Linked DNA regions of Homo sapiens: region 2 is linked to region 1. Evidence: fine-mapped expression QTL. A gene starts in region 1. The other region holds a variant in brackets. All regions are shown on one strand. Distances are from middle to middle.

Evidence for each region.
Region 2: its variant is fine-mapped to the expression of TGFB1I1 in lymphoblastoid cells (GTEx, PIP 0.99).

What each region holds. Positions count from the first base shown.
Region 1 is chr16:31,469,290-31,474,658 of GRCh38, forward strand. TGFB1I1 (transforming growth factor beta 1 induced transcript 1) reads left to right here and starts at 2,863. Exons shown (of 11, transcript NM_001042454.3): 1 at 2,863-2,912; 2 at 4,152-4,267; 3 at 4,393-4,445; 4 at 4,546-4,688; 5 at 4,863-4,950; 6 at 5,061-5,166; 7 at 5,274-5,369. The coding sequence starts at 2,900. RefSeq lists an enhancer at 3,202-3,742.
Region 2 is chr16:31,447,861-31,453,229 of GRCh38, forward strand. No RefSeq gene overlaps it. Among named protein-coding and RNA genes, the nearest start is that of ZNF843, 7.8 kb to the left of the region's middle. RefSeq lists enhancers at 3,948-4,242, 4,823-5,369. The variant C/T (reference allele first, on the strand shown) is at 2,540.

The DNA.
Region 1 (5,369 bases):
AATGTTATCAAGGTTCATCCACACTGTAGCATCTCATTTCTTTTTATTAGGAATAATACAGTTTCACTTTATGGATTGCTGTGGTTTGAACATGTACCCCAGAGTTCATGTGTTGGAAACTTAACCCCCAATTCAACTGTTGAGAGGTGGGAACTTTAAGAAGTGATTAGGTTATGTGGGCTCTTCCCTCATGAATGGATTAATGGCATTATTGCATGAGTAGGTTAGTTATCAAGGGAGTGGACAGCTGATAGATAAATGGATGGGTTCTGCCCCCACCCCACCCCCTCTCTTGCACTGTCTTGCCCTTCTGCTTTCTGCTGTGGGATGAGGCAGAAAGAAGGCCCTCACCAGATGCAGGGCCCTTGACCTTCGACTTCCCAACCTCTAGAACTGAAAGAAAGATATTTCTATTCTTTATAAATTATCCAGCCTTAGGCATTCTACGATGCAGCACAAAACAGACTAAGACATGGATATGCCACTTTCATTTCTTCAATCATCAGTTGACGGACATTTGGGTTGTTTCCACTCGGGCTATTATGAATAATGCTGCTATGAATACTCATGTACAAGTTTTTTTGTGGAATATGCTTTTATTTCTCTTGGTTACATATCTAGAAGGGAAATTGCTGGATCATATAACTCTATGTTTAAACATGTGAGGAACTGCCAGACCATTTTCCAAAGTTAGTGAACGATTTTACATTCCAACCAGCCATGTGTGAGGGTTCCAATCTCTCCATATCCTCACAAAAACTTGCTAATTACCTCTTTCTTTTCAGCTTTTTTTTTTTTTTTTTTTGAGTCGGAATCTCACTCTGTCACCAGGCTGGAGTGCAGTGGCACAATCTCTGCTCACTGCAACCTCTGCCTCCCGAGTTCAAGTGATTCTCCTGCCTCAGCCTCCCGAGTAGCTGGGATTACAGGTGCCTGCCACCACACCCAGCTAATTTTTGTATTTTTAGTAGAGACGGGGTTTTGCCAAGTTAACCAGGCTGGTCTCCAACTCCAGACCTCAGGTGATCCGCCCGCCTCGGCCTCCCAGAGTGTTGGGATTACAGGCGTGAACCACTGAGCCTGGCCTTTAAAATATTATCATTATTATTTGAGATGGAGTCTCGCTCTGTTGCTCAGGCTGGAGTGCAGTGGCACGATCTCAGCTCACTGCAGCCTCCACCTGCCAGGTTCAAGGGATTCTTCCGCCTCAGCCTCCCAAGTAGCTGGGACTACAGGTGCCCACCACCATGTCTGGCTAATTTTTTTGTGTGTTTTTAGTAGAGACTGTTTTCACCATGTTAGCCAGGCTGGTCTCGAACTCCTGACCTCAGGGGATCCACCCACCTCGGCCTTCCAAAGTGTTAGGATTACAGGTGTGAGCCACTGCTCCTTGCCTAATTACCTGTCTTTTTTGTTATTGCCATCCTAATAGGTATGATGTGGCATCTCATTGTAGTTTTGATTTGCATTTCTCTGGGGACTAATGATGTTGAGGATCTTTTCATGTAATCATTGGCTATTTATATAACTTCTTTGAACTGTCTATTCAGGTCGTTTGCCCATTTTTTCTTCTTTTTCTTTTTTATTCTTGACACAGGGTCTCCTCTGTTGCTCAGGAGTTCAGTGGCACAATCTCAGCTCACTGCAGCCTCTGCCTCCAGGTTTCAAGCAATTCTCCTGTCTCAGCCTCCCAAGTAGCTGGAATTACAGGCTCCCACCACCACGCACAGCTAATTTTGTGTTTTTAGTAGAGATGGGGTTTTGTCATGTTGGCCAGGCTGGTCTCGAACTCCTGACCTCAAGTGACCTGCCCGCCTTGACCTCCCAAAGTGCTAGGATTATAGGTGTGAGCCACCATGCCTGTCTCGCATTTTTAAAAAGCTCCCCAGGTTGTTCCGATTTGCTGCTGGGTTGATACTCACATTCCAGTGCTCAGATCTGTCCAGAAGAGTGGCTGCAGCACAGTTGTCTGTCCATAACTACCTCTATGGCCTCTCGTTTCCACCTCGTTTCTCAGGGTCTCAGTCCAGGGAAGGCCTTGCCACTTTGTGGCTGGAGACTGTGTCTTGCTTTCTGCTCTGAGTTCATCAGTAACTTGGGAAAGGGCTGTTTCAGAGCAGGCCTGGGCCACCTCAGTGCTGAGGAAGGGCTTTGTCTTGCAGGCTGGCTGGGGGTTGGTTGCCTGGGAGTGTTTTCCCCGAATTTGCAAGGGGCTTGCGCCCGGGTTCGAGTTTACGTGTGTCCATGACCAAGTCTTGGAGGGAAGGTCCTAGTGTAGAGTCTGTGGGTGGGTTCACTGTGTCTGTCCCCGTCCCTCAGATTTCTTTGTGTCTGGTATGTATGCCTCTTGGGGCCTCTATTTATCTGTCAGGGTCTCCGATGGGAGGGTCTCCGAACCTGAGGTCTAATTGAGCCTTAGAATATCACTCCTGCTACCAATCCAAAAATTCCGTCTGGGACAAGTCTCCCAGGAATGGCATGGGTGGGAGGGAGGCTCTTGTCTAGGACTCAGGCGCTAGCTTTGAGCGGTGTCTGTTTGGGGGCCTCAGTCCGTGTCTGTAAGTCTCCCTAGGGAGCGGCTCTGGGGCTTGGTCTGGAGAAGCCACTTCTCTCTGGCTCTGGCCTCCTGGGGCTCCCTGCAGCTGAGGCCAAGGCTGGGGTGTGGCCGCCTCCGCGGCAGGCCGGCGGGCTGGGCTCGGGTGGGCCGGGGCGCTCCCTCCTTTCCACGCCCCCACCTCGGGTTCCCCCGTTCATCGCCCCCCCATCCCCATCTCAGCGGGTCCCGGCTTCCTTACATGGTCACGGCCGGGCTTCCAGCTCCCGGACGTCCCCCGCCCCCCGCCCCCACCGGACACGGCCCCCGCCCTGTTCGCCCCGCGCCACCGGCCCGCGCCCCGCCATGGAGGACCTGGGTGAGTGGGGCCGGATCCCCGGGTCCGTGGCCCCTCACCGCTGCCCAGAGCTGCCTCCCCGCCGTCGCTCTCCCGCATCTCCCCATCCCTGTCTTCTTACTTCTGCTTTTCGCCTCTGCCCGCGCCTCCTTTCCAACTCCACGTCCCCCTTCCTGCCTCTCCCTTCCTGCCTTTCCTGGGCCGGCCGCTCCCTCCCTTCTTCCCTCGCTGTGCTCCTCCATCCCAGGCTGCGGCAGATGGAACGGGAGGTGCGGCGCCCGCGGGCGCCCGGGCGCGGGGCTCTGGGGAGGGAGGGGTTAAAGGGGCCTCGGCCCGGGGACCGGGAAAGTAGAGGGCACGGGAAAGTCTGGCATCAAGTTTTGGAGAAAAAAAGCGGGCCTGCCTGCACCAGAGTTTTGGGAGAGGAGGAGTTAAGGGCTCCTGAGCACAGTGAGGGTCAGGTCCTTGAGGCAAGGAAGAGAATAGTAACTCAGGAGTGCCTAGGCGCCCGCGAAGGCTTCAGGGTTTCACGCGGGTGCTCAGAGACGAAGACTGAGGGCAGGACTTCTGGGTTCTGGAAGTGAAAGGGCTCAAAAGACCCGGATCTGGGGATGCAGGGATGGAGAGAGGTGTCTTGTCCGGAAGGGGGACCCAGGTATCTCGTCCTCCCTGCGAAGCCTGGGGCTGGAAGGCTGTGCGCTCCACGGGAGAGAGGGGCTTCCGGCCCCTGGCGGTAGAGGGCGCTGCTCGGTAGGGGTAACTGACGCTGTACCGCAGATAAACAGCCAATCAGAAGGCAGGTCCCAGCGAAGCGCCAGTGAGGAGCCCAGGGCGGGACTCAGGGGCCTGGGAGTGGCCAGGCTGGGCGGGGCCTGTGTAGGTAGAGGGAGGAGTTAACCAGCATGGAAGAGAGAGCGTCCAATCAGAAAGCTGAGGGCCAGGCACTGGGCCAATGGAGCAATTTGGAGGGGAGCCAAATTTGGCTTGGGTGAAGAGCCCATTTTGACTGCATCAGAGAAGATGGGGAGAATAAAATAATCAGGAGGCTGGGTTTGTGCTTGGCTCCAAGCGTGAGCAACTGGGATATTCTGGTCATAAATATTCCTTGCTACCCTTCGAGCAGTGCTCTGCCTGGCTCTGGCCCTGTGACCTCTTCTCTTAATACTGGCTTCTGTCCTTCTCCAGTACTGCCCACTGGGAACCTTATCTTCTGATCTAACCGTGACCCTTGTCTCTCTCCCTGATGGCCTCTTCCTGCAGATGCCCTGCTCTCTGACCTGGAGACTACCACCTCGCACATGCCAAGGTCAGGGGCTCCCAAAGAGCGCCCTGCGGAGCCTCTCACCCCTCCCCCATCCTATGGCCACCAGCCACAGGTGAGATCGGATGTTGGGGACTGGGGCAGCCACTAGGGCCAGGCTCGGCCTGGTCTATGGGGATCTCAGCCTCAGTGGGGCAGAGTGCAGGCCTGTCATCCCACCTGTGCGTCTCCGCTCTGTAGACAGGGTCTGGGGAGTCTTCAGGAGCCTCGGGGGACAAGGACCACCTGTACAGGTGAGGGGCCTGGAAACCAGGGCATGGGGGCCAACTGAGTCTCAGGTGAGGAGGCTTGGATTCCCCACCCCTGAACCCAGGCTCCCACTCTGCTTCCCAGCACGGTATGCAAGCCTCGGTCCCCAAAGCCTGCAGCCCCGGCGGCCCCTCCATTCTCCTCTTCCAGCGGTGTCTTGGGTACCGGGCTCTGTGAGCTAGATCGGTTGCTTCAGGAACTTAATGCCACTCAGTTCAACATCACAGGTACCAGGGTGACTGAGAGAGGCCTTGATGCGATAGGGGCAGGGGAGGGAAGGGTGGGGCAGAGACTAAGAGGAATACACTTCCCAGAGTAGCAGTTAAAGGGACCTAAAGCCTCAAGTGTGAGGGTGCGTTGAGCATGGCCCTATATGTAGCGTCCTCCTCTCCTCTCTCCAGATGAAATCATGTCTCAGTTCCCATCTAGCAAGGTGGCTTCAGGAGAGCAGAAGGAGGACCAGTCTGAAGATAAGAAAAGACCCAGCCTGTGAGTTTGGCGTCGTTGTCAGGGCTGAGAGATGAGTCCTGGATATCTGAGTCACTAGAGGGAGCGTTGCTCTGGGAGGCTCTGAGATGACACAAGCATGTTCTTCACAGCCCTTCCAGCCCGTCTCCTGGCCTCCCAAAGGCTTCTGCCACCTCAGCCACTCTGGAGCTGGATAGACTGATGGCCTCACTCTCTGACTTCCGCGTTCAAAACCATGTGAGTTGGGCAGTGGGCCAGTGTCCATTTGTGGCTCCCCAACCCCTTCTAGACAATTCCACATCTGCTGCTTTGCTGACTCAATTCTCATGTCCTCCCCGCTGCAGCTTCCAGCCTCTGGGCCAACTCAGCCACCGGTGGTGAGCTCCACAAATGAGGGCTCCCCATCCCCACCAGAGCCGACTGGCAAGGGCAGCCTAGAC
Region 2 (5,369 bases), 21 kb before region 1:
AAAAATTAAATGGGCAAATGACTTGAATAGACAGTTCAAAGAAGTTATATAAATGGCCAATAATTACATGAAAAGATCCTCAACATCATTAGTCCTCAGAAAAATGCAAATCAAAACTACAACGAGGTGCCACATCATACATATTAGGATGGTGATAATAAAAAAGACAGGTAATTACGCCAGTAGTGGCGGCTCATGCCTGTAATCCCATCACTTTGAGAGGCTGAGGTGGGCGAATCACCTGGGCTCAGGAGTTCGAGACCAGCCTGGTGAACATGGTGAAACCTAGTCTGTACTAAAAACACACAAAAAATTAGCCAGGCATGGTGGCGGGTGCCTGTAGTCCCAGCTACTCAGGAGGCTGAGGCAGGAGAATCACTTGAACCTGGCAGGTGAAGGCTGAAGTGAGCTGAGATCACGCCACTGCACTCCAGCCTGGGAAACAGATGGAGACTCTATCTCAAATAATAATAACATTATTATTATTTTTAAAAATAATATTTAAAAAACATTAAAATTTTTTTTTTAAATAATATTTTTAAAAATGATATTTTTTAAATGATAATATTTACAGGCAGTGGCTCACACTTGTAATCCCAGCACTTTGGGAGGCCGAGGTGGGCGGATCACCTGAGCTCAGGAGTTTGAGACCAGCCTGGCCAACTTGGTGAAACCCTGTCTCTACTAAAAATACAAACATTTGCTGGGCGTGGTGACAGGCGCCTATAATCCCAGTCACTTGGGAGGCTGAGGCAGGAGAATCACTTGAACCTGGGAGGCGTAGGTTGCAGTGAGCTGAGATCACGCCACTGCACTCCAGCCTGGTGACAGAGTGAGATTCCGACTCAAAAAAAAAAAAGCTGAAAAGACAGTTAATTAACAAGTTTTTGTGAGAATGTGGAGAGATTGGAACCCTCACACATGGCTGGTTGGAACGTAAAATCATTCATTAACTTTGGAAAATGGTCTGGCAGTTCCTCAGATGTTTAAACATAGAGTTATATGATCCAGCAATTTCCCTTCTAGATATGTAACCAAAAGAAATAAAAGCATATTCCACAAAAACCTTGTACGTGAGTATTCATAGCAGCATTATTCATAATAGCCCGAGTGGAAACAACCCAAATGTCTGTCAACTGATGATTGAAGAAAGTGGCATATCCATGTCTTAGTCTGTTTTGTGCTGCATCGTAGAATGCCTAAGGCTGGATAATTTATAAAGAATAGAAATATCTTTCTTTCAGTTCTAGAGGTTGGGAAGTCGAAGGTCAAGGGCCCTGCATCTGGTGAGGGCCTTCTTTCTGCCTCATCCCACAGCAGAAAGCGGAAGGGCAAGACAGTGCAAGAGAGGGGGTGGGTGGGGGCAGAACCCATCCATTTATCTATCAGCTGTCCACTCCCTTGATAACTAACCTACTCATGCAATAATGCCATTAATCCATTCATGAGGGAAGAGCTCACATAACCTAATCACTTCTTAAAGTTCCCACCTCTCAACAGTTGAATTGGAGGTTAAGTTTCCAACACATGAACTTTAGGGGACAGGTTCAAACCACAGCAATCCATAAAGTGAAACTGTATTATTCCTAATAAAAAGAAATGAGATACTACAGTGTGGATGAACCTTGATAACATTATGCTATATGAAAGAAGCCAGACACGAATGACCACACATTGTATGATTCCATTTATATGACATGTCCAGAATAGGTCATCTGTAGAGATAAGATGTAGATTAGTGGTTGCCTAGGGTTGGGGTATAGGGGGTGTTATGGACTGAATGTTTGTATCGCCCCCAAATTTATACATTGTTTAACCCCCAGTGTGACTGTATTTGAAGACAGGGACTGGCTGGGCATGGTGCCTCACGCCTGTAATCCCTGAACTTTGGGAGGTCAAGGCAAGCAGATCACCTGAGGTCAGGAGTTCAAGACCAGCCTGGCCAACAAGGTGAAACACCGTCTCTACTAAAAATTCCAAAAAATTAGCCAGGTGTGGTGGCAGATGTCTGTAATCTCAGCTACTTGGGAGGCTGAGGCAGGCGAATGGCTTGAACCCAGGAGATGGATGTTGCAGTGAGCCGAGACCACGCCATTGCACTGCAGCCTGGGCAAAAGCAACGAAACTCCCTCTCAAAAAAAAAAAAAAAAAAAAAAGATAGGGCCTGTGAGGAGGTGACCTTAAATAAGGTAATCAAGATGAGGGACTTCCAAGAGGAGTGCTGGCAATTAAGAGAGCTGGGGCCAGGTGGGGTGGCTCACACATGTAATCCAGCACTTTGAGAGGCCAAGGTGGGAGGATCCCTCGAGCCTAGGAGTTCGAGACCAGCCTGGGCAACATAACAAGACCTTGCCTCTATTTATAAATTCAATTTATTATTATTTTTTTTAAAAAAGGGAGAGAACTGCGAGGAAATAAAAAGAGAAAGGGCCAAGGCCAGGTGCACTGGCTCACACCTGTAATCCCAGCACTTTGGGAGGCCGAGGCAGGCGGATCACGAGGTCAGGAGATCGAGACCATCCTGGCTAACACGGTGAAA[C/T]CCCGTCTCTACTAAAAATACCAACAAAACAAAACAAAACAAAACAAAACAAAAAAAAACTAGCCTGGTATGGTGGCATGCGCCTGTGGTCCCAGCTACTCAGGAGGGTAAGGCAGGAGAATCGCTTGATCCCAGGAGGTAGAAGTTGCAGTGAGCTGAGATCGCGCCACTGCTCTCCAGCCTAGGCGACAGAGCGAGATTCCATCTCAAAAAAAAAAAAAAAAAAAAAAAAGAGAGAGAGAAAAGGCCAAATATTTCAATTCTAAGGTTTGGAATTTTTTTGTTGTTGTTCTTTTTTATTTTAAGGGGAAAATGTTGAAGCAATTTAAAAGTGTACTGCAGGAGAATAAATATAGCGATATTGTTACCAAAAAAATCCAAAAACCAAAAACCCAAAACCCAAGAACAAAACCTTCCCAAGGTGCTGACAAAGCCCCGAATCTCCAGGCTGCAAACATTCTCCTGGCTGCTCATTTGTGAGGATCCAGTGACCTGTGTCCACTGCTGGGAAGCGAAGGCATCTGCTGGTGTGGTGCAGCCATGCTGGGGGCATGGCGAGGCCTGTGGATGCAGTTCTCTGCGCTCTGCCCTGTGCTCTCTCTGACGTCTTCCACATCCCCACCTCTTCACCCTCTCCGGGGCTTTCTTCTCTACCCATCTAGGGACTACAGCCCAGAAAAATGCTACCACACCACACATTGCATTTAGTTGTCACGACTCTCTAGTCCCCATTATTCCAGAGCATCACCTCAATCATTTCTTGATTCTGATTACCTTAAAACTGTTACACCTGTAGTCCCAGCACTTTGGGAGACTGAGGTGGGAGGATTGCTTGAGCCCAGGAGTTCAGGACCATCCTGGGCAACGTAGCAAGACCCGTCCCTACAAAAAAAAAAAATTAAAAATTAGCTGGGTGTGGTGGCATATGCCTGTAGTCCCAGCTACTTGGGAGGCTGACACAGGAGGATCACCTGAGCCCAGGAAGTCGAGGCTGCAGTGGGCTGTGGTCGCACCACTGCACCCCAGCCTGGGTGAGGGAGAGACCCTATCTCAAAAAACCATAAAAAGCTTTTTGTTATTGGGATGGCACTGCTCCAGGGCTTTCCAGAGCTAGGGAATATATGGACATTTACACACATCTGCGTGCACATACACATATACACACCCATACTAATTTCTATGTCTATCTAAACACTTTCTGAAAATCCTGAGTCTACTCCTATACCTCCAGTTCCAATTCGACACCACAAGGGTCTCCCCACCCACATTTTCTCCCTTTCCCGAGCTGTGTCTCGGTTTTCTCTGACACTGAGAAACCTGGCTGTTATCTTTCAAATGTGTACTTATTTGACCAATAGCTGGTGGAAGCAGTTTCTTATCTCTCTCGCCATCTCCTTCCCGTGGCTGATGCCTTCCTAATCCTATCAGGTTCTGCCATGCCAAGCCAGGCCACCTTCTCGTGTGGACACCCTCCCCCACCTGCTGGAGCTCTGATACATGCTCTGGCCTGCTGCGTCTCACTCCCCACACCCGGCAGAGGCCTCTTTGGCTCTGCCTGCCCCTAGAGGCTGTAAGACAGCATTGTTCAGGAAAGGGAGGAAAGGGAATGGGTGTAGGAAAGGAAGAGCGGATCTCCTTTGAAGAATTATCTTTAAAAAAAATTATTTTTTTAGAGACAGGGTCTCACTCTGTTGCCCAGGCTGGGGTGCAGTGGCACAATCCTAGCTCACTGCAGTCTCAAATTCCTGGGCTCAAGCGGTCCTCCTGCCTCAGCCTCCTGAATAGCTGGGACTACAGTGAACATCACCACACCTGGCTGGTTTTTTAATTTTTTCTAGAGATGGGGTTTGCTATGTTGCCCAGGCTAGTCTCGAACTCCTGGGCTCAAAGCATCCTCTCACCTCAGCCTCTCAAAGTGCTGGGATTATAGGTGTGAGCCACCGCCTTTTTTTTTTTTTCTGATTTACTATAATATTTCTAGTAAGCCATTGGCTTAGAAACCAGATTCACTAATTAATTCATTTACCCTTTCATGATACAAAATTTTTTAACTGAGTGAGGCCTTTCCTGAGAATTGAGCACATGAGCTTTGGTGCATGGACCTGGAAATCTCTGCTTCTTGAACTCCTAGGGGCTTCCTTTACTTCATTCACTCCTGGTGCTCAGCAAATTTCTGAATGGGGGAGGTTGGCCAGCCTGGGAGAGGTCACCCACGCCAGGAAGTCTCAGTACCTCTCTATTTATCCTATCACTTGGGAATCCTCTAGGATCTGTTTCAGGGAGTCTCTGGTTAGCCCTGAGACATAAGTGGTGCGGGTGAGACTCCTGGGGCCTATCTCAGAGGTCCTCACACCCCTGAGATTAAATCAGTCAGGAGGCAGGGTGGAGAGAGGAGTGTCCTATCAGGTCTGAGGAGGTTGTCAACTTCCTGGACTTCTTGCTAAGGACTCCTCTTCCCACCCTTCATGGGTAGCTGAGGTCAGGGAATCTGTAGGGACAAGACTTTCTTTTAAATGCTAATCTGCTGACTAACCCTGAGTCTGGGAATGCCTCCAAAATGTCAAGCTGATGTGTTTTTTTATTTTTTGGTTTTGTTTTTTTTGTTTTTTTTTTGAAACGGAGTCTCACTCTTTCATCCAAACTGGGGTGCAGTGGCACGATCTTGGCTCACTGAAACCTCCACCTCCTGGGTTCAAGCAATTTTCCTGCCTCAACCTCCCAAGTAGCTGGGATTACAGGCACGTGCCACCATGCCTGGCTAATTTTTATATTTTTGGTAGAGACAGGGTTTCACCACGTTGGGCAGCCTGGTCTCGAACTCCTGACCTCA